2 separate regions of the Homo sapiens genome follow, and region 1 is linked to region 2. The links come from fine-mapping of genetic effects on gene expression. Tissue or cell type: whole blood. Region 2 holds a variant in brackets; the other region holds the start of a gene. All regions are shown on one strand. Distances are from middle to middle.

The links. PIP is the estimated chance that this variant, and not a neighbour inherited with it, causes the effect.
Region 1: RTN4R starts here. The variant in region 2 is the best candidate, but not a certain one, in a credible set for the expression of RTN4R in whole blood (TOPMed, PIP 0.88).

Annotation. Positions count from the first base shown.
Region 1 is chr22:20,267,220-20,269,830 of GRCh38, forward strand. It overlaps RTN4R (reticulon 4 receptor), which reads right to left and starts at 1,099. Exons shown (of 2, transcript NM_023004.6): 1 at 852-1,099. The coding sequence starts at 873. RefSeq lists an enhancer at 1-631 and silencers at 843-1,002, 1,093-1,252, 1,303-1,362.
Region 2 is chr22:20,157,732-20,160,482 of GRCh38, forward strand. No RefSeq gene overlaps it. Among named protein-coding and RNA genes, the nearest start is that of CCDC188, 8.1 kb to the left of the region's middle. The variant G/C (reference allele first, on the strand shown) is at 1,541.

The DNA of each region.
Region 1 (2,611 bases), 110 kb after region 2:
CAGTCCGTGTAGACAAGTGCACGTGCAAGGAAACGTGTGTGCAGCCTGCGGCACCATGGACATCAGCAGGGCAGCCTGGGTGGGCACCTGGGGAGCACCCTCCAGGCGGGGCATGCCCAACTCACATGGAGCCCACCCTCCCTTGCCCGCACCGCGGGACCTCACAGCCGGTGGGGCGGGGGAGTCCCACGAGGGCTGCTAGGGAGGGGTTGCTGATTGCCCCACCGCCCCTGATTCCCCCAGCCAAGCCTCTCAATGTCCCTCGGGCTGCAGATGGCGGGCGTTGCTGCCTCCTCTCACCGCCCGCCCTGGAGGCAGCGCTGGGACAACCCTGTCCCCCACGCCCTCTACTGCCGCCAACGCCCCCATTCATCCCACTGTGGACTGACCTCGGAGAAACGGGAGGTTCTGAGCCCAGACCGTGAGGCTGGGGTGGAGGCGGCCCGACACCCCCACCCACCCTCGGTACCCACGTTTCTGCAAAAACCCGCTCGTTAACCCCTTGGTGGCCGGGGCGCTCCGAGGCCGGGCCCCGCCCTTCCAGCCCACGGCCCCCGCCCTCGACTTGGCCCAGCATCGGGGACCCTCGGACCGCCACCCTCGGCCCTGCCGAAGCCGTCAACTTTCCCGGGAAGCGGCAACTTTTCCTGCCGCCTCCGGCTCCGCCCTCCCGGGGCCGGGGCGCCAGCGGCCCCAGCCTGGCGCGGCACTGCGGTGGCTTTCCCTGCCGCCCGGCTACGCTTCCCTCGCCTCGGCAGCCCGGGACGGGCCCTGCGGCTCCGGGGAGGGGGCGAGCCGCCCCCCTCCGCGCCCCGCCGCCGGCCGGGCTCGGGTGCAGCGCGGACACTCACCTCCAGCGGACGCCCTCTTCATCGTAGGGGTTGGGCGGGGCGCGTCGGGGACTGAAAGTCGTTTCGGGGCGGGCGCCCGTCTCCCCGCGGCCGGGTCCGCATCCAGGCGCCGCCGCTACGGCCCGGCCCCGGCCCGGCCGCGGGACGAGGCTCGGCGCGCTCCGCTCCGCCCGGCTCTGGCTGGGCTCGGGCCGCGGGTGCGCAGGGCGCGCAGGGCGCACAGGGCGAGGGCGGCGGCGGCGCGGGGGTTGGGGCGTGGGCGGCGCGGCGGGCCGGGGCGCGCAGGCCGGGCCGCAGGAGGCGCTCAGCCCGCCCGGTGCACCGGCGCCGCGCGGTCCCAGACAAAGGCGGCGCATTCCTGAAGAGGCGGCGGCCCCTGCAGGCGGCGGAGGGGATGGCGGCCCGGGCCGGAGCCGGCCGGGGACGCGGGCCCGAGGGTGTGGCGGCCTAGGCTGGCCCGGTCCCCAAGCGGGCAAGGGCTTTGTCCCGAGGCCTAGGAATGGCCTCTGCCTGACCCACTCCCTTCCTGGCCTCACGAAACCCATGAATCCCCCGCCCCCTGCACAGAAGCCCCTTGCTGCAGCACGATCGCCCCCATTTTTCAGTAAGAAACAGGCTCAGGGCTTAAGAGAGTTCTGGGGGCCCTCCTGGGCCTTTGTGGCCCTCTCTGCACCATCCTAGAGAAGGGACCTAGGCCTGATGTTACCCGTAACCCTGCAGGGGTCCCCCACCTCTTCCCTTCTGCGGAATGGGGGCTCCAAACCCAGAAGACGCTCTCCGAGGTCACCTGCTTAGTATCCCCCCACTCTACCAAGCCAGCCCCCCACGGGCGGTGTGAGGCATGGGGCCAGAGAATCCAGTGACGCCCCTGCACACACCACACAGGGGTGCAGGTGTCCCTTCTCAATCTTCTGCTCGGGGCACCTACCGGGCCTCACCGATGAGCTCCTAAGTGCATCCCGGGGTCTTCAGACAACTGCCAGGCTGCCCCTGCACCTGGAGAAGTGCTGGGAGTCAGCTCAGCCGGGCTGGGTCCTCCCCAGGCCCACCCTGCATGAGAGGACCATGCAGATGAGGGTCTTGCAGGCCCACCTGGTGTCAGTCTGTAGGACCCTGACTCAAGGACGGAGTGGGCCAGCCTGATGCCTTGATGGCCCCCCTCAGAGCCCAGGTCCACTGATATGAAGCAGAGAGACCTGGTGACTGGGCACCCCTGTGCCCTCTGCCTGCCCCTGGCCATGGAGGTGGCCCTGAGGGAGATGAGCAGGGCGCAGGGCCGGTGACCTGCCTGCCTTGTGCAGAGGAAGTGAGGACCTCCCAGAGCCCTGGTGCTCCCATCTGATCCCAGTGGCAGGCAGCTTCGCAGGGTGGAGCCATGCTGGGTGGGCCCTCTGCCTGGTGTGGAGGCTGCACTGCCCACATGCCTCTGGCTGCCGCTCTGTGGCCCTCATCACTTTGGCCTGCTTTATCCCTATCACCCTTGTCCCAGCCTAGGCTTATGAGGGCATTGTGGAGTGCATGCCATTCCCAGCCACACAGAAGGTGAGGTGGGGCCCAGACACCCCCAGCCACTCTGTCCCCTGGCCTCCTGAAGGGGTGGGCTGTGCACACACTGCCACCTCCCCAGAGGGTGCTGGCTGCCGAGTGCCACCAGCTCAGCCCCTGAGGTGGCTCAACAGGTCCTCCCAGAGCCACACCAAGACGTCATCACCCATTGCACAGATAGGGAACCTCAGGCGAAGCTCACAGAGCCAGTGGGA
Region 2 (2,751 bases):
TGGCCGGGTTCCCAGCGTGCAGGAGGCCAGCTTAAGTTCAGTAGGGTCCCCCTGCAGGGACTCCAAGAGGCAAACCACATGGAGAGTCACCTGAGAGGGAATGATGGAGGCTGGGGAGGTGGAGCCCCCACCTCCAACTGCTGCCTCGGCCCCCACAGCAGGGGAGGGCGGGAGGCTGGCACTGGCACTGCCCTGGGAGATGCCACCTGGGCCTTGGTCTGGGGAGGAGGGCTGGCCAGGAGGCTGGGTACGGCTACTGCTCTGGAGTGACCGAACCATTTCCACCCTGCTTGCCTTATTCTTCTCATGAGGGCCTCAAGGGGACACACCAGAGGTTTACTGGGGACATGGCAGGGGAGGGATCTCAGTGCTGGCCTTCTGGGGCCCTGCGTCCACTCCGCCCCTTTCTGACCTGGGCTGGGGCCTCTGCCCTCCCCGGGGCCTGGAGACAGAGCCCTTTTGGAGGCCCTCAGGCTTGACAAGCCTACTTCTTAGAGCCAGGCTGTGGGCTGGGCTGTATCCTGGTGGGATGAGGGATCTGGGGCTTGGGTGGGAGTGGGGCTGGGAGCAGGTGGAAGTTGGTGCCTCAGGCTCTGAGGAATGGGCCTGGGATGGCTGCAAAGTGGAGGAGAGGCTCTCTCAACCCTGGGCTTTGGGGTCTGAGCCCAGCCCTGTCCTCAGGCAGTCTGCCCCTGCAGCCCCGCATTGCCATGTTGGTTGGAGTTGCGATGAGAGGTGCTGGGGCCTCCCTTGCCTCTGCCCAGCACAGCTGAGAAGTTACGTGCTGCTGCCCAACTGTGGGGGTTTCAAACCCCGCTGGAGCCTCCAGGTGGGCCCTTGGGCAGCAGGGCCTTGTGGCGGGAGGAGGGGACCCTGGGAAGTCAGGGACCAGGCGGGGGAGGGAGAGAAGGTGGGAGCACAGTTGTGGGTGTGGGTACCCGCCCCTTCCTGAACTGTGTTCCTCCCGGCCCACCTGACTCTAGTCCTCTGTGCCGGCTGCCAGGGGATACCCGAGGCCACCTGCGTCCCCAAAAGAAGGTCTCACCTTCAGAGCCAGCCTTTGAGGCTCCTGGGTGACCTCAGCCTGTTACCCTTGACCCTGAGTTCACCTAGATCAAGTGGGAGGCCGCTCTTTGGGCCTCAGTTCTCCCATCCTCAGGGAGTAGGTCCTCTGTCCCCTGACAGCACCCCTCCTCGCTGTGCCACCACCACTGCCAGGGTTCTGATCTGTGGATGTTCCCCAGGGGGTGGCTCTGGGCTCTCAGGCAACCGGCTACTGTGGATGGTGGTTTGCACGAGAATAGTGTCACTCTTGGGTCCTTTGCTTGAAGTTGGCTCTGCTGAGTGCAGCCTGCAGACATTTTCAGGAAACTGAATCCACAGGCTGGAGCCTTCTGCTTCCCCACAACCCAAACGGCCCCCAGCCAGCCAAACAGCCACGAGAACCCAGCTGCTAGCAACTGCCAGCAGGAAACCCACTACCAGCCGCTCACAGATGGACAGCCCATCCCAGGAGCTGGCCCCACCTCCCCGCCCCTCT[G/C]CTGACCAACCCAGCAGCTCCTTGGGTGGGTGTGGCCACCCTGCTGCCCCAACCTGCTCCCGGACCCTGTGCCAGGAGGTGCTTCGCCTCAGCGGGGCCTTGCCTCCCCCAGAGCCGCTCTGCTGCCTGACCTTGCAATGTCATGGGTCCTCTGGGCACTGGCGCAGTTGGGTGGGATCAGCTTTGGCCAGCAGGTGGGGGGCAGGTGGGTAAATCCTCCCTCTCTGCCATCTCCGCTTCCTTCCTCCTGCCCGGCTTCCCTGCCTTTTTCCTACTCTGGCTCCAGGGTTGCACTGCTCAGAAAGCTGTTGCTGCCTGGCCAGCACGCAGGCCTGATTTTCCTGGGAGCCTGGACTAAGACCCTGACCAGTCCTCCCACCCACCACCCACACCACCACCCAGCTAGCCAGCAGCTAGGCCAGGAGTGATCAGGAGGGGGCCCAACCGACCACCCACCCGGCGTCTCCAGCCGGCCAACTCTGCCCACTCAGGGCCGTGAGCTGGAGGTGCCAGGAGCCTCCCGGGAGGCAGTGTGAGGCATTCTTCTTAGTAAGTCCCGCATCGATGATAAAGGGCAGTATCAGCCCCTCTCTGATGCGCAGTGAGCGGCTCACCATACAGGGGAGGCGTTTAATTTATCTCGGGAACTGGGCGCAAGTTATAAAAATGGTAATTTCTTGGAGATTCAATTACATGTTTTCATTGTTACCCTCGATAATCAAGGAAACGATTTTTTATAAAAGGCTGTGGGATGATACTGATCTCAGGAGAGGATCTGGGCCGGGTGGGGGCTTTGGGGACGAAGAGGAGGGCAGTGTCTGCTGGGGGCAGGCAGGGCAAGTGGAGCTGGGCCGGCCGGCCCACCAGCTCCTGCAGCCCACCAGTTCCTCCAGCTCCTCCAGCCCTCCAGTTCCTCTAGCTCTCCAGCTCCTCCAGCCCACCAGTTCCTCCAGCCCTCCAGCTCCTCCGGCCCTCCAGCTCCTCCAGCCCACCAGCTCCTCTAGCCCTTCAGCTTCTCTGGCCCACCAGTTCCTCCAGCCCTCCAGCTCCTTCAGCCCTCTCTGGCCTCAGTCTTCCCATCTGCCGACGGGCCCATCTCTGGTAGGGAGGGTCTGCGTTTTGGCATGAGGGCTGATGAAGTGAGGCGTGACTCCTGGGCCGTGAGGGTGGCTGCGTCCCTGCCCCTCCCTTCCTGGTGCCCGAGCAGTCTC